Linked DNA regions of Homo sapiens: all the other regions are linked to region 2. The links come from fine-mapping of genetic effects on gene expression. A gene starts in region 2. Each other region holds a variant in brackets. All regions are shown on one strand. Distances are from middle to middle.

The links. PIP is the estimated chance that this variant, and not a neighbour inherited with it, causes the effect. A credible set is the group of variants that fine-mapping cannot tell apart.
Region 1: its variant is the best candidate, but not a certain one, in a credible set for the expression of NUP85 in whole blood (INTERVAL, PIP 0.87).
Region 3: its variant is the best candidate, but not a certain one, in a credible set for the expression of NUP85 in anterior cingulate cortex (GTEx, PIP 0.59).

Annotation. Positions count from the first base shown.
Region 1 is chr17:75,226,155-75,236,298 of GRCh38, forward strand. NUP85 (nucleoporin 85) reads left to right here. Exons shown (of 19, transcript NM_024844.5): 11 at 1-3; 12 at 5,186-5,269; 13 at 5,419-5,484; 14 at 5,674-5,825; 15 at 6,697-6,814; 16 at 6,904-7,004; 17 at 8,483-8,634; 18 at 8,946-9,047; 19 at 9,424-9,604. The coding sequence ends at 9,525. Among named protein-coding and RNA genes, the nearest start is that of NUP85, 26 kb to the left of the region's middle. RefSeq lists an enhancer at 1-500 and a silencer at 8,497-8,660. The variant T/C (reference allele first, on the strand shown) is at 4,568.
Region 2 is chr17:75,200,631-75,210,774 of GRCh38, forward strand. It overlaps NUP85 (nucleoporin 85), which reads left to right and starts at 5,049. Exons shown (of 19, transcript NM_024844.5): 1 at 5,049-5,164; 2 at 7,897-7,990; 3 at 9,193-9,355. The coding sequence starts at 5,132. RefSeq lists enhancers at 3,854-4,788, 4,789-5,722, 4,881-5,060, 7,148-7,715.
Region 3 is chr17:75,609,770-75,614,769 of GRCh38, forward strand. MYO15B (myosin XVB) reads left to right here. Exons shown (of 64, transcript NM_001395058.1): 22 at 397-490; 23 at 1,131-1,190; 24 at 1,832-1,889; 25 at 2,117-2,247; 26 at 3,029-3,124; 27 at 3,205-3,440; 28 at 3,524-3,702; 29 at 3,936-4,008; 30 at 4,430-4,591; 31 at 4,814-4,914. Among named protein-coding and RNA genes, the nearest start is that of SMIM5, 21 kb to the right of the region's middle. The variant G/A (reference allele first, on the strand shown) is at 2,275.

The DNA.
Region 1 (10,144 bases), 26 kb after region 2:
CAGGTAGGATCTCTCCCACCCCCCACTGTAACCATTTTTAGGTGTACAAATATCACCACCTTGCGTTTCTAGAGTGGCCTGTTCCTTCCTTACCCTTCTTCCCTCAGACCTGCTATCTTAGTCCATCTCACGCTGATATTACAGAATACCTGAGACCAGATAATTTATAAAGAAAAAGATTATTTTCTCACCGTTCTGGAGGCTAGGAAGTCCAGGATCAGGGCACTGGCAATGTTGCTGGTGAGGGCTGCTCTCTGCTTCCAACATGGCACCTTGAACACTGTGTTCTCATGTGGTGGAAGGGCAAGAAGGACAAACTCCCTTCATCAAGTCGCTTTATAAGGGCACCCAATCACATTCATGAGGGAGGATGTGGCCTAATCACCTCCTGGCCTAATCACCTCTTAGAGGCCCTACCTCTTAATACTATCACATTGGCAAAACTGGGGTTTTAGAGGGGATCCCTTCAAACCATAGCATCTGCTCCCCTGCTTGACTTGCCACAGGTAGATAATGGCTTTTCTCTGGGTGAGCTTAGGGACTTCCTGGAGGCTTGAGGGCTACCATATACATAACTGTTTCCATTTCAGGGATGTTCATTTAAAATAACATCGCGGGAAACTACTTTGACATTTAAAATCTAGAAAAAGCCAGCAAGCCTGTTTCTTGGCACCTAATGGACACCTTATGGGATGGCGTGTTCCAAGAGTCTCACTCCAGTGACGTGAGCTACCGAACCACTGGGCTTCAGGCTGGGTATTATTCAGAATTTCCAGCCCTCTATCCAAAAGAGGGTGTTCTATGATTGCACTGAATCTTTAGCAAGGCAGGAAAGGGAGTGCCAAACATAATCAATCAAAGGTAAACCTTTCCAGAACTCTCCATATATGGTAAGTCAGAAAGAAGGTCCCCTTCCTTGTTGTGCACCCTGGATGGTGGGCATTGCACTGAAGACGTGCTGGGAAGGGAGGAAGTGGGTAATGGCAGAAGATGGCCTTGATCAGGTGTCAGATTCACTGACCTCAACTGGCTGTTTGTAGATCTGGGCATGGGAAGAGTTTCCTTCGCCCTACCTGCTTTTCTTGTTTTGGCCAAAAGAATGCCAGGGCTTCAAGAAAATGATACTAGATTTGGGGAATGAAAAACAAGTTTTTTGTGTGTTTGTTTCTGGGTTTTTTTTTTTTTTTTTTTTTTTTTTGAGACAGAGTTTTGCTCTTGTCACCCAGACTGGAGTGCAGTGGCGTGATCTTGGCTCACTGCAACCTCCACCTACTGGGTTCCAGCAATTCTACTGCCTCAGTCTCCCAAGTAGCTGGGATTACAGGTGTCCGTCACCACGCCCAGCAAATTTTTGTGTTTTTCAATAGAGACAGGGTTTCACCATGTTGCCTAGGCAGGCTGGTCTGGAACTCCTGACCTCAGGTCATCTGCCCATCTCGGCCTCCCAAAGTGCTGGGATTACAGGCGTGAGCCACCGCGCCCTGCCAAGTTTTTTTTTTTTGAAACAGGGTCTCACTTTGTCACCCGGGCTGGAGTGCAGTGGAGTGATCTCAGCTCACTGCAGCCTTGACCTCCTGGGTTCAAGTGATCCTCTTGCCTCAGCCTTCCAGGTAGCTAGGACTACAAGTGTGCGCCACCATGCCTGGCTAATTATTATTTTTTTTTTTGGAGAGATGAGGTTTCACTATGTTGCCCAAGCTGTTCTTGAACTTGTGAGCTCAAGCGATCTGCCTGTCTTGGCCTCCCACAGTGCTAGGATTACAGGCGTAAGCCACCATGCCCGGCCTGAAAGTCAAGTTTTGTGTCAATATTTTCACAGGCCTGTAAACATTGTGAGAAGTCCCTGCATGGAAGAATTAGTGAGAATAACTTAAAAACACACAAACACACCATCGTTTGGCTTTGTTGGTGTCTCTGCCCATAGTTGAGTATTCTAAATTTCCTGTGTTATAACAGTGAGTGAGTTTCACCAGGGCTTCCTAATTTATAAGCCCTGTATCTGGATTTTTAGGAATAAAACAGATTTGAGCAGAAGAAGTCTGTTGGATGCAGGGAGTATAAAAGGGGAAAGCATCCTGCTGTTTCCAGTGGCAGAAGAGAAAGAGAAGTACCATGAAGAGGGGTGAACAACATCACTCTCGTGCCGGACACAGACAAGGAATGATTAGGCTTGCAGTCCCCCAGTCTCAGCCTCTCTCCACTCTCACAAGCAGGAAGGGATCTGAGCTCTGTTAGTGGGAAATCTTGGAGTTTGCATTTCTCTGATCACGAGGCTACCTCCTATCCTGTTTTGAAAGAGGAACAGAAAAGCAGAGCTTGTCCCAGGAATTGTGAAATGGGCTGCAATGTCTTCAGAGGCAGTAGCAGTTTTAGGAAGTGTGCCCTCCTGGCTCTGGGGAAAGGTTGAATTGGGGTCTTGTGGGCACTTGTTTTCTCATGGGATGTATCAGTCAGACCCATGCACAGTTCTGGGCGGCAGGGAAGTGTGTCTCTTTCTGGACTTGAGCCAGTGAGCTGTTGGCATGCCTTTTTAAAGGCATTAGAAAAAAGGTTTCTTTCTTTTTTTTCCTTTCCTGTTCACACCACCTTCATATGAACATGGAGAAGGGAGGTTTCTAAGTGGGCCCCTGATTTACTCCTATGTCAATAATCGTGCCAGACCCTAAGGGGCAGAAAAGGCAGCCAGGGGATCCTGACTCAGAGGCTGTAGTTCGTCAGCCCTGCTAAAGGGCCAGGGGTTTGTCTCTCAGTGCCTGGGTGGGCATGCTTGACTGCTAACCCCTTAGCTGAAAGGAGATGGCAGGAGTCCTCCACAGGGTCCCTTCTTCCCTCCTGGCTTACAGCTTCCTCTGAAGACGGGCCAGTTCCTTGCTGTCTGGCAAGAGGAAACAGCTGGGGTGCACTTCACTGGGAGTTGGGCAAGATGTCGGCAGTTTCCTGGTGCCCTTCAAGTCCTCCAAAAGTATCGAGCTAAAAGGTGACAAGTCTTCCTTCAATAACCAAGAAGAGTTCCAGCTTAATGTCTGCTGAATCTAGAATCTTCTGACTTGTATTTTGGCCCAGCCCACAATCTTGGATGCAGGGTGCAGCAGTGTTTACAAACCTCACACCCCATTTCCAGAATAGCAGGTAGAGGCACTGGAGCTTTGATTACTCCAGAGCCCCCAACAAGCAAGATGGGGCCTGGGTAAGGAGTTGACAGTGACCTTAGTACAGGACAAACAGCTCATTTGGGGCTACAGTTGCTTAGAGGGGTCACCTTCACCGTAGCTGGTCTTCCCAACTCCGCAGCGTTCTCTCGTTTTCAGCAGAGGGCTACTTTGGAGCTGATAATTAGGCCTTTCTTGCCTTGAATGTTAAGGATGCCCACCTGCTCTGTGTCTCGGCTGCTCACTCAGAATCCTTCAGAGTGAGAGAGAGACAGAGTGAGAGTGGGAGTGTGTGCGTGTGTGATCTAAGACCTAACTGTGTGGTTCAGGCCTGCTGGGCCCTGTAGAGAGACCGTGGTGGCTTTGTGCAGCACTATGTCTGGTCTCCGTCACTTGAGTTGTGTTGTTAGTTCTCTGCTCTCAGTGCTTGCTGCCTTCCAGCCTTGGAGGCTGCTGGATCCTTTGGGAAGACACCGGGCACTGTCTCAGCCCTTCCTTCCAGTTGTTGGTGGCTTTCGTGCAGGCTAAGGCTTTGGCTCCCTTAGCCTGGGTCCCCTATAGCCTTTTCACTGGCTTCTCCAATGGTTTCGACATAACCATCAGCTAGAAATCTGGGTAGCAACAGCTGTTTTGGGAAGCTGAGGTGTCCTTTCCCCTGGCCCAGCCCACTCCCTCCCATTTTTTTCCCCAGCTTTATTGAGGTGTGATTAACAAAGTAGTATGTATTTAAGGTGTACAAAATTTTTTTTTTTTTTTTGGAGACAGAGTCTTGCCCTGTCACTCAGGCTGGAGTGCAGTGGCACGATCTCAGCTCACTGCAGCCTCTGCCTCCTGGGCTCAAGCGATCTTCTGCCTCAGCCTTCCGAGTAGCTGGGACCACAGGCACACGCCACCACGCCCAGCTAACTTTTGTATTTTTGGTGGAGATGGGGTTTTGCCATTTTGGCCAGGCTGGTCTTGAACTCCTGAGCTCAAGTGATCCACCCGCCTCGGCCTTTCAGTGTTGGGATTACAGGAATGAGCCACTGCACCCGGCCAAGGTGTACAACATGTTTTTTGTTTTTTTTTTTTTTTGAGATGGAGTCTCACTTTGTCGCCCAGGCCGGAGTACAATGGCGCGATCTCGTCTCACTGCAAGCCCCGCCTCCTAGGTTCACGCCATTCTCCTGCCTCAGCCTCCAGAGTAGCTGGGACTACAGGTGTCCGCCACAACATCCGGCTAATTTTTTGTACTTTTTGTAGAGATGGGGTTTCACCGTGTTAGCGAAGATGGTCTTGATTTCCTGACCTCATGATCCTCCCACCTCGGCCTCCCAAAGTGCTGGGATTACAGGTGTGAGCTACCGCGCCCGGCCAACAACATGTTTTGATAGATGTATACATTGTGAAATTAAGCTAGTGACATCTGTCACCTCACA[T/C]AGTGACCCTTTTGGTGTGCGTGTGGTGAGAACATTCAAAAGCTACTTTCTAGCTGGGTGTGGTAGCGCATGCCTGTAATCTCAGCTACTGAAGAGGCTGAGGCATGAGAATTGCTTGAACCTGGGAGGCAGAGGTTGCAGTGAGTCGAGATCTCACCAGTGCACTCCCGTCTGGGTGACAGAGCAAGACTCCACCTCAACTACTTTCTGAGCGATTTTTTTTTTTTTGAGATATGGTTGTGCTCTCTCACCCAAGTTGGAGTGCGGTGGCGTGATCTCGGCCGATTGCAGCCTCTGCTTCCCAGGCTCAAGCAATACTCCCACCCCAGCTTCTCGAGTAGCTGGGATTACAGGTGTGTGCCACCATGCCTGGCTAATTTTTGTATTTGTAGAGATGGGGTTTTGCCATGTTGCCCAGGCTGGTCTTAAATTCCTGGACTCAGGTGATCTGCCTGCCTTGGCCTCCCAAAGTACTGGGATCACGGGCATGAGCTATCATCACGCCCGGCCCCATCTCTTTGAGGGACAGGACATGTGGGGTTTCTTGCTCACCCCCACTCTTGTGGGACGCGGCCTGTGCCCTGATTTTCCTTCTTGCCTTGGTGTCTGAATCTGCAGCATCGCCCTGAGCAACTGGTGGTTTGTGGCCCACCTGACAGACCTGCTGGACCACTGCAAGCTCCTCCAGTCACACAACCTCTAGTAAGTGGCCGGGAGGCACCGATCCTCCTCTTCTTACCACCAGGCCCCCGAGGGTGGTGTGAACTGAATGCCTGAAAGGGAGGTTGGGCTAAGGGGGCCCTGAACAGGGCAGGCCAGGAGTCTTGGTCTTTTGTTATGTTTTATTCCAGTTTCGGTTCCAACATGAGAGAGTTCCTCCTGCTGGAGTACGCCTCGGGACTGTTTGCTCATCCCAGGTAGGAAGGACCCCATGGGTGTGGGCTATGCGGGTGCTCTTCAGCATGCGGGTGCCATTGGAGCTTGGACTGTTCTCTCCCAGTTGGCTCCTTGAAGGCTTCGGAAGGGTCAGTGAAAGGGAGCTGTAGGTGCCAGTCCTCGGAGCCATGAGGCAGCACCTCATGTCTGTCCTCCTCGAACCTTTGCAGCCTGTGGCAGCTGGGGGTCGATTACTTTGATTACTGCCCCGAGCTGGGCCGAGTCTCCCTGGAGCTGCACATTGAGCGGATACCTCTGAACACCGAGCAGAAAGCCCTGAAGGTGCTGCGGATCTGTGAGCAGCGGCAGATGACTGAACAAGGTGAGCTGGCCCTGCTCCCAGCCTACTGTCTGTGGGACGCAGGAGTCAGGGGATCCTGAGGTCACACTTTATGCCTACCCCAGCCATCCTCCTCCTCACGAGCCACACTGGAGACGTGGGGCTGTGGACGCCAAGAGGTAAACTAAGAGATGGGATAATTACTTGGGAGGGACAGGAAAGCTAGGGATCCACTGGAACCCAGACAAAATCTACACGCCATCTGGAAAGGCCTGAGCCGCCCCTTTTCTCACACACTTGATTCCACGAGGTCAGGGCTGGGGTTGGCGCTGTTTCCCTGTCCAGGTGGGTTGCTATTGCTAGCTCAGCCTGGCTCAATGGGGAAGCAGTGCTGGAGGTGGCTCCAGAAAAGCAGAGAGAGTGGAATGAGGATGACCAAGTCTGCCCCTTCATTTCTCCCCTCACTGTTGAGTAATGTAAACATGAGTTATTACCCTGCAGAGAGGCAGTTGCATGTTCACGACCATTTCTGAAAGCATATGGTATTCACGATCCACAGGAAGATGTGATTTGAGGCATCTGGAGAGGTAATAGAAGAGCTGACACGTAGGGAGAAACACGTAGGGAGAAAAAAAATAGAAGAGCTGACATGTAGGGAGCAACGTTTTGCTCCCCTTGAAGCCACACACACTCATAGAGCCAGTCTTGCCGTGATGGGCACTTACACTCTTAGCAGATCCCAGACACTGTTAATCAGCCGAGTTTCCAGCTCTGCCGATCCAGCTGCATTTAGAGCCCAAAGAGTGGCTCTGCGGTGGAGTGAGGCTGTGAGGCCACTCCGGTCCCCACAGGGCTCAGGAATGGAGTGATTTGTGGAGTGAAAGCCGTTTACCTTTTCTTTTCCCCTGCAAAGTTCGCAGCATTTGTAAGATCTTAGCCATGAAAGCCGTCCGCAACAATCGCCTGGGTTCTGCCCTCTCTTGGAGCATCCGTGCTAAGGATGCCGCCTTTGCCACGCTCGTGTCAGACAGGTGGGTGCCGCTAGTGTTGGCTTCCCAGGGACTGGGTGGTTGAGGTGGGCCTGAGACTGCTGCTCTGATCTCTGGGCCGGGCCCTGCAGGTTCCTCAGGGATTACTGTGAGCGAGGCTGCTTTTCTGATTTGGATCTCATTGACAACCTGGGGCCAGCCATGATGCTCAGTGACCGACTGACATTCCTGGGTGAGTCTCTGGGTTTTGTGCCCTGTGCTTTGGGCACAAGTGGGTAGTTGGGGAGGTTGGAGGGATCACGTCAGACTTCTCCCAGCGCTTCCTTCATGTATTCCCATTGCATCAGTGGTCCCAGAAACATCCTCCGTCATGTCCAGGATCATGAGTTTGGCTGTCACATCTCCTTAGTGCCTCCATGTTTGTTTGTTTGTTTGTTTGTTTTTCTTTCTTTCTCTCTTTCTTTCTCTTTCTCTTTCTCTTTCTTTCTTTCTTCTTTTCTTTTATTTTTTCTTTTTTTTTTTTTTTGAGACAGAATCTTACTCGCTCTGTGGCCCAGGCTGCCAGGCTCACTGCAACCTCCACCTCCTGACTTCAAGCAATTCTCGTGCCTCAGCCTCCCAAGTAGCTGGGATTACAGGCACGCGGAACCACACCTGGCTAATTTTTGTATTTTATTTATTTATTTTTTGGGGACAGAGTCTCACTCTGTCACCCGGGCTGGAGTGCAGTGGCGTGATCTCGGCTCACTGCAACCCCCGCCTCCCGGGTCCAAGCAATTCTCCTGCCTCAGCCTCCCAAGTAGCTGGGACTACAGGCGCACGCCACCACACCCAGCTAATTTTTTGTATTTTTAGTAGAGATGGGGTTTCACCGTGTTAGCCAGGATGGTCTTGATCTCCTGACCTTGTGATCCGCCTGCCTCGGCCTCCCAAAGTGCTGGGATTACAGGCGTGAGCCACTGCGCCCCGCCTAATTTTTGTATTTTTAGTAGAGATGGGGTTTCACCATGTTGGTCAGGCTGGTCTGGAACTCCTGACCTCAAGTGATCCGCCCGCCTCGGCCTCCCAAAGTGCTGGGATTACAGGTGTGAGCTACTGTGCCTGGCCAGTGCCTCCATGTTTCTTCTTTTTTTTTTTTTTTTTGAGACGGAGTCTCACTCTGTCGCCCACGCTGGAGTGCAGTGGTACAATCTTGGCTCACTGCAACCTCCACCTCCCGGGTTCAAGCCATTCTTCCTCCTCAGCCTCCTGAGTAGCTGGGACTACAGGTGCATGCCACCATACCCGGCTAATTTTTGTATTTTTAGTAGAAATGGGGTTTCACCATGTTGGCCAGGTTGGTCTCAAACTCCTGACCTCAGGTGATCCACCTGACTCGGCCTCCCAAAGTGCTGGGGTTACAGGCATAGGCATGAGCCACCACGCCTGGCCTAGTCAATCTCTTTTAATCCATGACTCTTGTTATGTATTTTGACTCTGATGTTTCCCCAGATTTGGCTCTTCGGAGTTCTTCCAAGTCTGTTTTGAATGCTCTTGGTCTGCATCTCATTGGGACCTATGAGTTTGGAGACAGAAAAAAATCTCCTGCTTTGTGGAGTGGCTGGTCTGAGGTTTTTCTTCTCCTGTTTAGGGCCAGGGTGACTTTTGTAGGTGTCACTTGGGCAATTTGGGGGAATATGCAGGTTACTCAGTGCTCTTGTTTCGCCATAGGAAAGTATCGCGAGTTCCACCGTATGTACGGGGAGAAGCGTTTTGCCGACGCAGCTTCTCTCCTTCTGTCCTTGATGACGTCTCGGATTGCCCCTCGGTCTTTCTGGATGACTCTGCTGACAGACGCCTTGCCCCTTTTGGAACAGAAACAGGTGAAGGTTGCAGCAGCAGTGGTTTTCTTTGCTTGTCAGTCCCTGCTAGAGCTTAGTTGTATAGCTGTTGCCGATGTGCGTGTTTCCTCCTTTGTCGTTCTGCCTGTGCGCGTGTATTCCCCTTAGCGCCCTCTCTGGGATTCCAGACTCACACAGGAAACAAACACTGCTTGATTTGAAATGAGGTATTCGTATACAAAGCACACTATTGCGAAGGGTATGAAAGGAAGAACGTCCGAACATGGGCCCCTGCCCCAACCAATGCAGGCCAGGGCTGGGGGCAGCCAAGCAAGGCAGGCTCTCTTCCCTAGGTGATTTTCTCAGCAGAACAGACTTATGAGTTGATGCGGTGTCTGGAGGACTTGACGTCAAGAAGACCTGTGCATGGAGAATCTGATACCGAGCAGCTCCAGGTCATTTTCACTTTTGGGTTGATGGTTCCACATGGAGGTGGGAAAAGGCTCCCTCTATCTCAGGCTTCCCCTTCCCTCCAGAAACACTGGCTCCTATGGACACATGTGCCTCTGTTCCCCTTAACCTGTGTAATTCACACACCACCTTCTTTTAGGAGAAAATCAGGGATTCTAGTGTTCTCATCTCTACATTTTGTTCTTTGCTGTTCATCATTTCCAGTATGGCCCTTTGGTATTGCTTTCTTTTACATCGATAATTTGCTGGAAGCTACTATGAATGTTAAGTGCCCTCTACCTTTGGATTAGCTAGACCCTTCGGGAGTGTGAAAGGGCTCCTTCCTGCTCTTAGCTCATGCTGGCGCTCTCTGCTTTGCAGGATGATGACATAGAGACCACCAAGGTGGAAATGCTGAGACTTTCTCTGGCACGAAATCTTGCTCGGGCAATTATAAGAGAAGGCTCACTGGAAGGTTCCTGAGAACTGCTTCAATGTGGTATCTTTGTATGGCAATGTATATAGATTTTTTTAAAAGAATAAATGTTGTTTTGCAAATGTAGGTTCTTAGAGTCCACCCAGGGAATTTTTTATCTGTCTAGTCTGAACCTGAGGTGGTAAGAGATTAAAAAATGCTTGTTTTATGTTCTTTTTTTTTTGAGACGGAGTCTTGCACTGTTGCCTGGCCTGGAGTGCAATGGCACGATCTCAGCTCACTGCAACCTCCGCCTCCAGGGTTCACGTGATTCTCCTGCCTCAGCCTCCCAAGTAGCTGGGATTATAAGTGCACACCATACCCAGCTAATTTTTTTGTATTTTTAGTAGAGATGGGGTTTCACTGTGTTGGCCAGACTGATCTCAAACTCCTGACCTTGTGATCTGCCCGCCTTGGCCTCTCACAGTGCTGGGATTACAGGCGTGAACCACCACACCCGGCCTTGTTTTATGTTCTGATACGCAACTGTCTTCCTGTGCCTCCTTAGATAAGAAATCACCCCCCAGGTCGGGTGCAGTGGCTCACGTCCTGTAATCCCAGCACTTTGGGAGGATCCCTCAACCCCAGGAGTTTGAGACCAACCTGGGCAACATAGGGAGACTCCAT
Region 2 (10,144 bases):
ACTTGAAGCTGTTTGTTTCATAAAATGAACAGAAACAATATGAATAAAGCTATATTTTGCAGATTTGTGTGAATATAGATATTATCTGTACTCTTCTATCTTCTCTCAATAATTGATTACATACACTCTATCCAGGAGTATGAGGCTGCAGTGAACTATGATTGAGCCACTGAACTCCATCCTGGGCAGCAGAGCAAGTCTCTGTCTCTAAATAGGCCAGGCAAGGTGGTTCTTGACTGTAACCCTAGCACTTTGGGAGGCCAAGGTTGGAGAATCGATTGAGGGCAGGAGTTAGAGATCACCCTGGGCAACATAATGAGATCTTGTCTCTACAGCATTTTTTGTTGTTGTTGTTGTTTGTTTGTTTGTTTTTTGAGACAGAGTCTCCCTCTGTCGCCTAAGCTGGAGTGCAGTGGCATGACCTCGGCTTATTGCAACCTCCACCTCTCAGGTTCAAGTGATTCTCTTGCCTCAGCCTCCTGAGTAGCTGGGACTATAGGTGTGCGCCACCACGCCTGGCTAATTTTTGTAGTTTTCATAGAGACTGGGTTTCTCCACGTTGGTCAGGCTGGTCTTGAACTCCCGATCTCAGGTGATCTGTCCGCCTCAGCCTCCCAAAGTGCTGGGATTACAGGTGTGAGCCACCGTGCCTGGCATTTTTTTTTTTTTTTGAAATGGAGTCGTGCTCTGCCGCCCAGGCTGGAGTGCAGTGGCATGATCTCAGCTCACTGCAACCTTTGCCTCCCGGGTTCAAGCGATTCTCCTGCCTCAGCCTCCTGAGTAGCTGGGACTACAGGCATGGGTCACCATGCCTGGCTATTTTTTGTATTTTTAGTAGAGACAGGGTTTCACCATATTGGTCACGCTGGTCTTGAACTCCTTACCTCAGGTGATCTGCCAGCCTTGGCTTCCCAAAGTGCTGGGATTACAAGCATGAGCCACCGTGCCCAGCCCCAAATAACCTTTTAATAAGAATTCTGCATAAAAATTATTTGTGAGGCACTTCTTTTATTCATTTAAATCTCCTTTTTGGTGCTTATATAAAACACATCTCTCTTGATTATTTCTTGGAAGTGTAATTATGAGGACAAAAAGATGAACATTTTCAAACTTTTTGAAATAATTTTTCATGTCCTGTCAGTCTTCATAGTTATTTTAAACAGGTGAGTAAAGTAACATCTCACTGATATAATTTATTTAGCTAACTTCTACGGTTGAACATATATACCAGCAGCTCTTAACAGAGGTGATTTTGCCCCCTAGAGGACACTGGGAATATATGCAGATATTTTCAGTTTTCACAATTGTGGGATGTTATTGGCATCTAGTGGGTAAAGGTCAGAAGTTGGAGTTCTTGTTCTTGGTGGGGTGTTGTTTTGTTTTGTTTTGTTTTGTTTTTTTGAGTTGGAGTTTTGCTCTTGTTGCCCAGGCTGGAGTGCAATGACGTGATCTCATCTCACCACAACCTCTGCCTCCTGGGTTCAAGCGATTCTCTTGCCTCAGTCTCCCTAGTAGCTGGGATTACAGGCGGATGCCATGAAGCCCAGCTGATTTTTGTATTTTTAGTAGAGACTGTGTTTCACCATGTTGGTCCAGGCTGGTTTCGAACTCCTGACCTCAGGTGATCTGCCCACCTCAGCCTCCCAAACTACTGGGATTACAGGTGTGAGCCACCGCACCCAGCCTGTTTTTTTGTTTTTGTTTTTTTTTTTTCTTTCTGAGACGGAGTCTCCCTCTGTCACCCAGGCTGGAATGCAATGGCATGGTTTTGGCTCACTGCAACCTCCGCCTCCCGGGTTCAAGTGATTCTCCTGCCTCAGCCTCCGGAGTAGCTGGGATTACGGGTGCCTGCCACCATGCCTAATTTTTGTAGTTTTAGTAGAGACGGGGTTTCACCATATTGGCCAGGCTGGTCTCGAACTGCTGACCTCGTGATCCGCCCACCTCGGCCTCCCAAAGTGCTGGGATAACAGGCGTGAGCCACTGCGCCTGGCCATATTGTTGCTTTTGAAACAGGGTCTTGCTGGAGTATAGTGCTATAACAATCGTAGTTCACTGCAGCCTTGACTTGAACTCCTGGGCTCAAGAAATCCTCTGGCCTCAGTCTCCTTCCTCTTGCTGTAGCTAGGGCTACAGGTATGTGCCACTAGTTCCAGCTAGAGTTTTTTTTTTTTTTTTTTTTTTTTTTTTTTTTTTTTTTTTTGAGAGGGAGTCTTACACTGTCGTCCGGGCTGGAGTGCAGTGGTATGATCTTGGCTCACTGCAACCTCCGCCTCCAGGGTTCAAACGATTCTCCTGCCTCAGCCTCAGTAGCTGGGACTACAGGCGCACAACCGCCATGACCAAATAATTTTTTGTATTTTAGTGGAGACGGGGTTTCATCTTGTTGCCCAGGCTGGTCTTGAACTCCTGAGCTCAGGTAATCCGCCCGCCTCGGCCTCCCGAAGTGTTGGGATTATAGGCGTGAGCCACCGCGCCCGGCCTTTTTTTATTTTTTATTTTTTGAGACAGCATCTTGCTCTTGCCCTGTTGCCCAGGCTGAGGCCAGAGATTTTGTTAAATAATGTACACTGTGCCCGGTTCAGGAGCATTAGTTTTATTAGGCTGCATGAAATGTATCCACTTAAGACTTTACCAGGCTGGGTGCGGTGGCTCATGCCTGTAACCCTAGCACTTTGGGAGTCTGAGGCGGGTGGATCACCTGAGGTCAGGCGTTCGAGTCCAGCCTGACCAATATGGCGAAACCCCGTCTCTACTAAAAAATAAAAAATTAGCCCGGCGTAGTGGCGTGTGCCTGTAGTCCCAGCTGCTCGGGAGGCTTAGGCAGCAGAATCGCTTGAACCCGGGAGACGGAGGTTGCAGTAAGCCGAGATCGTGCCACTCCACTCCAGCCTGGCGACAGAGCAAGACTCTGTCTCAAAAAGACAAAAAAAAAAAAAAAAAAAAAAAGACAAAGAAAAAAAAAAGAGAGAGAGAGCTTGTTAGATCTTAGTGCTATATTTCCTTGATTATTTTTATTTTAAGGCTGACAAAATGCCATTTAAGATAATAAAAGTAGTTAAATTGCCTGACCAAGAGCTAGATAACATTGAGGAAAAAGTATTGGCAATATTCTTTGGTCTAATACTGCTATATACCAACCATTTTACCCAATCATTCAAATAGGCTTAGTAATACAAGGGCGAAAAAGGAAAACTACAGCTAATAGTGCTATCCTTGTTCTTTTTTTTTTTTGAGACGGAGTCTCGCTCTGTCGCCCAGGCTGGAGTGCAGCGGTGCAATCTCGGTTCACTGCAAGCTCCGCCTCCCCGGTTCACGCCATTCTCCTGTCTCAGCCTCCCGAGGAGCTGGGACTACAGGCACCCGCCACCACGCCCGGCTGATTTTTTTTTTTTTTTTTTTTTTTTTTTGTATTTTTAGTAGAGATGGGGTTTCACCGTGTTAGCCAGGATGGTCTCTCTCTCCTGACCTGGTGATCCACCCGCCTCGGCCTCCCAAAGCGCTGAGATTACAGGCGTGAGCCACCGCGCCCGGCCTATCCTTGTTCTATATACTGATTACGCATACTATATATGGACCTTTTCCTTCCTCAACCTTTCTATAGATTTCTAAGAATAAGGTTTTGATGAAGTAGTTTATGTATCCTTCTTTTTCAGTTAATCCTAATGGAAAACGGTTGGAAAAATGAAACAATTATCTTACAACTTATTTTTCTCTTTCCTCTCCTCCCCTCTCTCTAAAAGAGTGTGGCTCCTTCCCCTCTCTTTTCCCCTTCCTCTCTCTAGAGTGGTTAACTCTCAAACTGTATTTAACTCTGGAAAAGTTTTCAATTACACAGGCGATAACTCCAACTTGAGGTATAACGGAAACTTATTAAGAGAAAAAGAGCAAAATAATTTTTTTTTGAGACTCAGCAAAATAATTTTTTTTTTTTTGAGACGGAGTCTCCGTCTGTCGCCCAGGATGGAGTGCAGTGGCGCGATCTTGGCTCACTGCAACCTCCGCCTCCCGGGTTGGAACAATTCTCCTGCCTCAGCCTTACGAGTAGCTGGGATTACAGGTGTCCGCCACCACTCCCGGCTAATTTTTGTATTTTCAGTAGAGACGGGGTTTCGCCATGTTGTCCAGGCTGGTCTTGAACTCCTGACCTCAGGTGATCCAACCACCTCGGCGTCCCGGAGTGCTGGGATTACAGGCGCGCGCTACCAAGCACAGCTAATTTTTTTTTTTTTTTTTGAGACGGAGTCTCGCTCTGTCTCCCAGGCTGGAGTGCAGTGGTGCGATCTTGGCTCAATGCAACCTCCACCTCCCGGGTTGGAACAATTCTCTTGCCTCAGCCTTCCGAGTAGCTGGAATTACAGGTGTCCGCCACCACGCCCGTCTAATTTTTTATATTTTTAGTAGAGACGAGGTTTCATCATATTGGCCAGACTGGTCTTGAACTCCTGAACTCCAGTGATCCACCCACCTTGGGCTGCCAAAGTGTTGGGATTAGAGGCTTGAGCCACAGCGCCGGGCCTTCAGGGGTATCGATTTTGTTCCCGTGCCTCTTGTGTGTGTTCTAGTGTGGAAGTGGAGGCGATTGCTTTCCAGCACAAGCCCGTTTGACTGTCGGGGTTTGGACAAGTGGCTGCGACGACACTAAGGTGGAGACCGGGATGTAGCGAGGACTCCCAGAGTTGGGAGACGTTGTACGCTTACTGGGACCTAAATCCCGCACGAGTTCCCACCCAAGTGCCGCCGCCCCAGCCTACGCACGCGCATTCGCACCGTCTCCAGCCCCGGGGTCCTCCTGCCCCTCCCGCCGTCTCCGGGGGCCTTTTCTCCGCTCGGCACCAGGGTGTCCCCGGCGCCGCCTGATCCTGTTAGCGCGGTACTCTGAGTGCAGTCAGTCCTCGGCGCTGTTTTCCCTGATTTGCTGTCGACGCCAGGAAGGAAGGACGCGTGCAGAGGACCGCAGAGGGGTGGCCGTGGCTGAGAGGAGACAGCGCCGCAGCACTGAGGGTTTGGGCTTGCAGGCGCTGCAGGAGACGCCCAGGCGGAGTCTTGTCTCGCAGCCAGCTCTGAGCGGGAGGCCTGAGCGGGAAGCATTGGCGTCCGAGCGACTTCTAGGAGCCTGGGGTTCGGCGCTATGGAGGAGCTCGATGGCGAGCCAACAGTCACTGTAAGGGTACCCCGAACAGGCTTGCTCGTCCTTGCGGGTTGAGAACTGCGTCTGCTTAGTTACTTCAGGCTTGTCTGCTTCCCTAGTGGTCGCGAGGCGCTCGTCCCCTTCCCTCGACTCAGTTGCCACTTTTCCGGAGGTCGCAGTGTTAACGAGGTGCCCGCCCTAGGGTCGCAGTGGTCGCGGGGTTTCTGCCACCAGTCACAAACCCCGGCCTCGAAGGTCCCACTCCGTCCCTTTCCTTCCTTTGTGTTCCTGGCCTTTTTACTTCCCTTGCTTTTCCTCTTGGGCATTAGAGTGGGTTCAGCCCAAGCAGAGGAATTTATATTTTTATTCCAGCCGTATTAAGCTCTGCATCGCGGCACATTGAGCTTCTGCCTGTGTGGCCTAAGGTTTATTCAACGTATTATCTCAGGAGACTATTCCTGTTTTATCGCTGTGCATTCAATTCCATTTGAACTTTGAAGACAGTATGTCAACTGTGGATGATCTGTGATGTGTATAAAAAAAATTCACGCGCTTTATGTACGAGATACCTACCGTTTCTGCTAGTTGGATTGCTCTTGTTTTCCCTCTTGTTAACCAGAAGTGACTGAGGCAGGTCTCAACCGATAAAGGTTTAATTAGCTAAGGTTGAGGATCCAACCGGGAAAAAGCACAGGTCACAGGAGGATCTGAGACCTGTGCTTTTTCCAAAGATGGTTTTGGGAACATCACTAGTTAAAGAGGAAGGAGCTAGCAGGAGGGGCAAAAAAGGGAGGTTAGGCAGTGAGGAGGCAAATGATTACATTCTTGTGAGTCGGTGATTAGCCTCAGTAAATCTGCATTTTACCTGTGAAAAGAGGGAGCAGAGGAAAATTTTATGTATGCATTCATCTCAGGGTAGGTAGAGGGATTATGGTTATTATTACTGTTATTTTTTAGACGGAGTCTCGCTCTGTCTCCCAGGCTGGAGTGCAGTGGCGCGGTCTCGGCTCACTGTAACCTCCGCCTCCCGGGTTCACACCATTCTCCTGCCTCAGCCTCCTGAGTAGCTGGGACTACAGGTGCCCGCCACCACGCCCGGCTAATTTTTTGTACTTTTTTGTATTTTTAGTAGAGACGGGGTTTCACCGTGTTGGCCAGGATGGTCTCAATCTCCTGACCTCGTGATCCGCCCACCTCGGCCTCCCAAAGTGCTGGGATTACAGGCGTGAGCCACCGCACCCGGCCGATTTCTGGTCTTTTACTTGTGAAGATAAGCTGGTAGTTGACATTGTCAGAATCAACAGATCTTGATTTTAGGACTAGTTTATAGGGGCGATGTGTATCCTGAAAATTTTAGAGGCTCACAAGGAATTTCCTTGTGAGCAATTTGTGAGGGAAGCTCTCTGGGGAGATATGTGGCCTTCTTTTTTTTTTCTCTTGAGGCGGAGTTTCCCTCTTGTCGCCCAGGCTAGAGTGCAGTGGTGCGGTCTCGGCTCTCTGCAACCTCCGCCTCCCAGGTTCAAGCAATTCTCCTGCCTCAGCCTCCTGAGTAGCTGGGATTGCAGGCATGTGCCACCATGCCCGGCTAATTTTGTATTTTTTTAGTAGAGACGAGGTTTCTCCATGTTGGTCAGGCTGGTCTGGAACTCCTGACCTCAGGTGATCTGCCGGCCTCAGTCTCCCAAAGTGCTGGGATTACAAGTGTGAGCCACTGCGCCTGGCCTCATTCTTTTTTTGAGACGGATTCTCACTCTGTCACCCAGAGTGGAGTGCAGTGGCGTGATCTCAGCTCACTGCAACCTCTGGCTCCTGGGTTCAAGCGATTCTTCTGCCTCAGTCTCCTGAGTAGCTGAGATTACAGGTGCGTGCCACCACACCCAGCTAATTTTTGTATTTTTGGTAGAGATGGGGTTTCACCATCTTGGTCAGGCTGGTCTCCAAAGCCTGACCTCGTGATCAGCCTGCCTCGGCCTCCCAAAGTGCTGGGATTACAGGCATGAGCCACCGCGCTTGGCTAGGAGTTCGAGATCAACCTGGCCAACATGGTGAAACCCCATCTCTACTAAAAAAATACAAAAATTAGCCTGGTTTGGTGGCGCGTGCCTGTAATCCCACCTACTCAAGAAGCTGAGGCAGGAGAATCACTTGAACCCAGCAGGCAGAGGTTGCAGTGAGTCGAGATTGCGTCACTGCAGTCCAGCCTGGGCAACAAGAGTTCGAACTCCTGACCTCAGATGATCTGCCCGCCTTAGCCTCCCAAAGTGCTGGCAGGAGCCACCCCGCTGCCGGCCCAAAATGAATTTTTCTTACCAGTGTTATAAGGAAATGTTATTGAAGGATACAGTGTTATTAGAGGACCAGCTGTGCTCTTCACTTAAAGTGTTTTTCAGCAGGGCGGGCACGGTGGCTCGCGCCTGTAGTCCTAGCACTTTGGGAGGCTGAGGCGGACGGATCACCTGAACTCAGGAGTTTGTGACCAGCCTGGGCAATATGGTGAAACTCTATCTCTACTAAAAATGAAAAAAAAAAAAAAAATAGCCGGGTGTGGTTGCACACACCTGTAGTCCCAGCTACTCAGGAGGTTGAGGCAGGAGAAGCCTTTGAACCCAGGAGGCGGCGATTGGAGCAAGCTGAGATTACACCACTGTACACCAGCCTGTTAGAGTGAGTCTTTGTCTCAAAAAAAAAAAAAAAAAAAAAAGAATGGAACAACTTCAGTAAGAAGAACATTTTTCATTTTAGATTTCTATGCCTTATTTTACTAGTTGATTCCAGGCGTGAATTCCAAGAAGAACCAAATGTATTTTGACTGGGGTCCAGGGGAGATGCTGGTATGTGAAACCTCCTTCAACAAAAAAGGTAGGGTTTTTTTTCTTCCAAATTATCCATCTTGGCACATTTGGTTGTTTTTCTGTTTATTACCTCAGATTTTACTAGTTGTGGACTGAAACAGTTGAATTTATTTTGTACTATTTTAATTTTCTCTATTTTGTTTTCAAGATACAACAGGGTTTTGTTGTGTCACCTGGGCTGGAGTACAGTGTGATCATGGCTCACTGCAGCCTCTACCTCTTGGGCTCAAGTGATCCTCTGCCTCAGTCTTCCTAGTAGCTGAGACTACAGGTCACCATGCCACCACGCCCAGCTAATTTTTTTTTCTTTGTAGAGATGGGAGTCTCATTTTGTTGCCTAGGCTGGTCTCGCACTCCTGGCCTCAAGCGATCCTGTTGCATTTTGGCATTTTTATTTTTGAAATGTTAGCTATTTTAGATTTTCATTGATTTTTGAGATCTTGAAGATGTTGAATCCCGGAAAAAAATTAATAGTTTTCATGAAAAATTTTCTTCATATTTAAAATGTCAAGCTTTTTATCCCTTTTTCTTTGTCCAAAGTGACCAAATTCCTATCAGTAGCTCCCTTATTGTGAACCTTGCAGATGCTTGGCCGTCACTTTTGTGTCCACAGCATGGATTCAGCTGAATAATAGTTCTGTAGGCTGAGCTGAGCCGTAGCATCCAAGGCACAGATGGAGCTGGAGAGTGACATAGCTTGTCCTTGGCTTGATTTTCCTGAGTTCCATCAGCTATTGGATAGGATGTGAATCTTTTTCTTTTCCTGATACAGTGATACAGTCTCCTTCCAGTAGAAGGATAAAACTGGAATCTTGACATTTGATTTGCTTTCTTTTTTTTTTTTTTTTTTTGAGACGGAGTCTCGCTCTGTCCAGGCTGGAATGCAGTGGTGTGATCTCGGCTCACTGCCACCTCCGCCTCCCGGTTTGAAGCAATTCTCCTGCCTCAGTCTCCTGAGTAGCTGGGAATGAAGGCATGTGCCACCACGCCCAGCTAATTTTTGTATTTTTAGTAGAGACAGGGTTTTGCTATGTTGGCCAGCCTGGTCTCGAATTCCTGACCTCGTGATCTGCCTGCCTTGGCCTCCCAAAGTGCTGGGATTATAGGCAAGAGCCACCATGCCCGGCCACAGAAAATTTTTTTAGAGTAGATTCACTTTTGGAGATGATCATAATAGATGTTAAATTTTTTTTTTCTGTTTGGTTTCAGAAAAATCAGAGATGGTGCCAAGTTGCCCCTTTATCTATATCATCCGTAAGGATGTAGATGTTTACTCTCAAATCTTGAGAAAACTCTTCAATGAATCCCATGGAATCTTTCTGGGCCTCCAGAGAATTGACGAAGAGTTGACTGGAAAATCCAGAAAATCTCAGTAAGTTGGTTGCTGTTTGGTGTTGAAGCCCACACTACACTGTGGAAAGCCAAATGAAGTACATTGTTGTCTTTTTGTGTGTTTTATGGGTTGCGTAAAGAAATAAGAGACTCCTGGTTCTAGTTGAGGCATGAGTACTGGACAGTGTACATTAGCAGTGATGGGAAGACTTAGCGGGAATATGCAAATGCTATTGATGGGCTGGCTTGACAAGCTTTATTTATATTCATATTTTACTTAGCCTCTAAAGAAGAAAATTTAGGCCACACAAGCATGTGAGAGTCGTTGAATGAGGTCACATTGTTGGGAGATTTGAAAATTAATATAAACCTAACAGTTTTGTCTCTAAAAAATTATGGTTCAGACGTTATTTGACAACAGACCAGAAAACTCTCGTACTATTTATAGATTAGGATTTTCTTGAATTGTAGTTCATAACTTCATCATTATCAGAGTGGTACTTGTTAATTGTAGACTTTTGGGACCCACCTCAGATCATCAAAATCAAAATCTCCGTGGTTGGATCTTAAAATCTCCAGCACACTGAAGTTTAAGAACTCCTGTGTTAGATTTTTGTCAGCGTCCCTTCACATGGATGGCTAGGGAATGGGCAGTGTTGGTATGTTACTTCTTTGATAAGCTTTTCACAAATGAATCATTCTGGACAAGACTCAGGTCAGCTTCTGTGTGAGTGTGTGCAAGAGTGATTATTGGTTGTTTTTCTGTTTTTTTTCGAGGCAGAGTTTCGCTCTGTCACCCAGGCTGGAGTGCAGTGACGCGTTCTCCGCT
Region 3 (5,000 bases), 410 kb after region 2:
ATCTCGGCTCACTTGAATCTCCACCTCCCAGGTTCAAGTGATTCTGGTGCCTCAGCCTCCTGAGGAGCTGGGATTACAGGTGTGCTGTAATTTTTGTATTTTTAGTAGACGGGGTTTCACCATGTTGGCCAGGCTGGTCTTGAACTCCTGACCTCAAGTGATCCACCCGCCTTGGCCTCCCAAAGTGCTGGGATTACAGGCATCAGCCACCGCACCCGACCCTTGCTTTTCTTTTGAAGTATCCTATTCTTTTCCTGTCGTTTCTGTGAAGCATCCAGGGCTTCTCTGGTCCAAAGTCAGTTTTTACATGAATGTCAGGCTTAAGGGATTCCAGTGCCAGGCAGGAAGCATAAGTTTGGACTCTTCATTTCGCCCCCGCTCTTTCCCGGCCTCCAGGAAGCGGTACCTCCGGCGGCGGGCAGCTTTGGGACAGCTGAACACCATCCTGCTGGTGGCCCAGCCCCTGCTCCAGAGGCGGCAGAGACTGCAGGTGCAGGGGCTTGGGTGGGGCGGTTCAGGGTAGAAGCCAGGCTGCCTGAGCTGGCCGAGCTGGCCAAATCCCAGCAGCGTTGACCCTCTCAGCCCGGCCTCGCACGGGCTGTGGCTTCAGACACAGTGCTCCTTGAACTCATCCCTTTTCCCTCCGGCCGGGGTAGGCCGGGGCCCTTGGGAGGTGCTGTCTTCCTCCATCCCTGCCTACTCTCCCCAGGGCCTGGCTCTTCCCTCTTGCCTGGGGTTCCCATCCCCTCCAGGCCTCCCCTGGGCCCCGTCCGCTCCCCTCTTTTGCATGATGACTCAAATCTAAGGTCTATAAAGCGACTCAAAGGTCAATGCCCACGTGCTACCCCCTCTCTGGCCCCTCCCTGGCTGGACTTTGTCCCCTGGGACCATTTCTTCCCTTCTTCCTGCCCTCTTCCCGGTGCCCTGGCAGATGGGCACAGACGCCCACAGTGCTAAGGCTGGTGAGGGCCCTGGAGGGCCAGGGGTGGCTGGCCCCTCCTGATCTGTTCTCACTCCTTTGCTGAGAACCTCCCAGGGGCAGGAGGGGACAGCTGAACTTCAGAGCTGGGGAGGTGCCCCCAGGTGACTCACATGGGAGGCATCAGCTCTTCCCACATCTCTTCCAACAGCTTGGGCGTTGGCAGGGCTGGCATAGCAGCGAAAGGGCCTTGGAGAGAGTGCCAAGCATGGTAGGTGGCCTGGAAAGTGGGGGGTTTTACATGGGGCTATGAACCTGCTGAGACTGGGACAGCTTAGAGGGCTGCCAGGGTGCTACCGTGGGTCTTGTCCCTCAGGGCCATGCATTGCACCTCCTGAGAAGAGGACCGGGGTGCTCTTGGCTCTTGGTTTCCCTCAGAGGGTCTTTGGGGCTCTGTTTGTTCGAGTGTCCAGGGTCAGAATCCTTGGTCTTTGGCTGGGTGTGGTGGCACACACCTGTAATCCCAGCACTTTGAGGTCGAGGTGTGAGGATTGCTTGAGCCCAGGAATTTGAGACCAGCCTGGGCAACATGACAAGACCCCATCTCTACAAAAACAATAAAAATTAGCTGGACACAGTAGCACATGCCTATAGTCTCAGCTACTCAGGAGGTTTGAGGTGGGAGGATCGCTTGAGCTAGAGCCTCAGAAGTCAAGGCTGCAGTGAGCCATGATGGTACCACTGCACTCTAGCCTGGGTGACAGAGTGAGACCCTGCCTCAAAAAAAAAAAAAAAAAAAAATCCGTGGTCTTTGGAAGGGATGTTTATAATCTTGGGGTTGAGGGTGTGGGGAGGGACACTGGTCCCTAGGCCCCTCCTGTGGATCCTGGGTAAATGAGTCCCCTCTGCCAGGAGCTGGGGCGCTTGGAGATCCCGGCTGAGCTGGCCGTCATGCTGAAGACGGCGGAAAGTGAGTCTTGTTGGTGTCCTCTTGTTAGGACTCCTTCTCCAGTCCCTTTACTGTGGGGTGTGTCTGTCCCTTGTGGTTCCTCCCTCTGATGCTCCAGACTCCCCTGAGCTCATCACTTGGGTCCCTGTGGACAGGGGCTGATGGCTCGTGGTGAGGGATGGAGGTGGTCCCAGGGCCAGGTACCACACCTGGATGCTCCTGGGCTGCCTCCCGGTGCTTGTTCCCAGGCCATCGGGACGCCCTGGCTGGGAGCATCACCGAGTGCCTGCCGCCTGAGGTTCCTGCCCGGCCCAGCCTGACTCTCCCAGCAGACATTGACCTGTTCCCTTTCTCCAGCTTCGTCGCCATCGGCTTTCAGGTGGGCGCCCAGGCCTAAGCTCTTCCC[G/A]CTGGCCTCACCGCTCTGAGTTAGCACCTGCCTGACAGATGCTGCGTTTTTTTCCCCGCTGTCAGCTCTTGCCCTCCTTCCTCCCCAGCCTTTGGGGCTGTGAGTAGCGCTGAATTGCTCTGAAAATAACCGTTGAATGTAATTGTCTCACCATAGAGCGTTACTGGAGATAACAGTTGGTGTTATTGAATGGGAGACGTTATTTAGATCCACGATGCCACACCTTTGTTGTACCTGCGGTAGTGCCCTGCTTTTGAAGTCATGACCTTAAAGAATGTTTATTGACAAGGGAAATTGTCCAGACTTCAGCAGTAAATACAAATGCAGGTTCAAAACTGCACATACAGGTTGGACATGGTGGCTCATGCTTGTAATCCCAGCACTTTTGGGAGGCCGAGGTGGGTGGATCACCTGAGGTCAGGAGTTTGAGACCGGCCTGGCCAACATGGTGAAACCCCGTCTCTACTAAAAATACAAAAATTAGCCAGACATGCGCCTGTAGTCCCAGCTACTCAGGAGGCTGAGACAGGAGAATCACTTGAACCTGGGAGGTGGAGGCTGCAGTGAGCTGAGATTGTGCCACTGCACTCCAGCCTGGGCGACAGACAAGACTCTGCCTCAAAAAAAAAAAAAAGGCATTAAGATGCATTTCTGTCCAGCCCCTCTGCCTCTCCCGAGGTGCCTGCTCCGGTGGGGCTCCCCTGGGCTGTCTGATAGCTGGTGAGCATGGACTGAGCCCTCTCCTTCCTTGCAGGAACCGTCCCTGCCCAGGCCAGGGCAGCCACTGGCGAAGCCCCTAACCCAGCTGGATGGAGACAACCCTCAGCGTGCCCTGGACATCAACAAAGTGGTGAGTGACACATTGGAGAAGGGACAGGATAGGCGCCTGGGAGCCCCGCACGTCCTGTCCTTACCCGGCTGTGTCGGCAGATGCTGCGGCTCCTGGGGGACGGATCCCTGGAGTCCTGGCAGAGGCAGATCATGGGCGCATACCTGGTGCGGCAGGGGCAGTGCCGGCCAGGGCTGCGGAATGAGCTCTTTAGCCAGCTGGTGGCCCAGCTATGGCAGAACCCAGATGAACAGCAGAGCCAGCGTGGCTGGGCCCTCATGGCTGTTTTGCTCAGCGCCTTTCCCCCACTGCCTGTCCTACAGAAGCCACTGCTCAAGTAAGGGGCCTGGGAGGTGGGGACCTGGCAGGTGGGGTCGCTGGATCACCCTGCCTCCACTGCAGCCTGTGCCCGCCCTGCAGGTTCGTGTCTGACCAGGCCCCCAGGGGCATGGCAGCGCTGTGCCAGCACAAGCTGCTGGGGGCCTTGGAGCAGTCGCAGCTGGCCTCGGGGGCCACTCGGGCCCACCCCCCGACCCAGCTGGAGTGGCTGGCCGGATGGCGGCGGGGCCGCATGGCGCTGGATGTGTTCACCTTCAGCGGTGAGGGCTGCCTCTGGCTGAGGCCTCCCAGGCCTGAAGTGGGGCCAGCCCTACCCCTTTGCCCTCCCTGGAACCCCTTCCTGCCCCAGTCTTCCTGCTGCCCTGTCCTCAGTGACCCTGATCCCCCTCCCCTCTGTCCTGCTTTTGAAACTCTCATGGGGACAGCAGCCCCTTCCTGTCAGGGTGGACTCTGCTGTCCCTCACTCTTGCCCCCGCCCCCCATGCCCCTGCAGAGGAGTGCTACTCGGCCGAGGTGGAGTCTTGGACCACCGGGGAGCAGCTGGCTGGGTGGATCCTGCAGAGCAGGTATGGGGACCGGGGATGGGGGACAGTGTGGCCAAAGTGACCCTTGTCCTATACCCTCCTCCTTCTCCAAGCCCAGTCTCAGGGGCCGGGAGGAGAGGTGCCCCGGGGTGGGCAGGGGCCAGACTGCAGATGGCGATGGGGAGCCGGGGGCAGATTAGGAATGAGGGGCTTGGGAGCTCCCACGGCAGATTCTAACTCAGCAGGTCAGAAAAGAAATGCCCATGCTGGAGCCCTTGTGGAAGTGGAGGGCCGTGAGGTGAGGAGGGGAGCAGCCCCCACTGCTGAGCAAACCTGGGTCCCGGACCAGGCGGATCCAGGGCCACCCTCCCTTCCTCAGCCCCCTGCCCCCTTGGCCCACCCTGTGGTCCTTGCCCCCTTCTGGATGGCCGCCTGCCTCACTGACTGGTCCCCTCCCACCCAGAGGCCTGGAGGCGCCTCCCCGGGGCTGGTCTGTGTCACTGCACTCCAGGGACGCATGGCAGGACTTGGCTGGCTGCGACTTTGTGCTGGACCTGATCAGCCAGACTGAGGACCTGGGGGACCCAGCTCGCCCCCGCAGCTACCCCATCACTCCTCTTGGCTCGTAGGTGCCACCCAGCACCCCTCTCCCTGGCCTGCTCCTGCCGGGGAACCCCACAGCCACCCTGCCACACTCAGGGGTTTATAGGAGCTGCCACAGGCCCAGCCCTCCCACCCAGCCTCCTCCCAACCATGGGGTGACCCCCGCAGCAGCTTCTACCTCTTGCCCCAGCCTGGGTGACCCTCAGCCTTGGCCACCCCCTTAGCTGGATCCCGTTTCCTGCAGAGCCGAGGCCATTCCCCTTGCCCCTGGCATTCAGGCCCCCTCACTGCCCCCAGGACCCCCTCCAGGTCCAGCCCCAACGCTGCCCAGCAGGGACCACACAGGTAAGGCTGGAGTGGGCACATGGAGGTTGGCAGAGCATGGGAAGCCCCACGCCCCGGGCCATGGCTCCAACCCTCTCCCTGCCCCA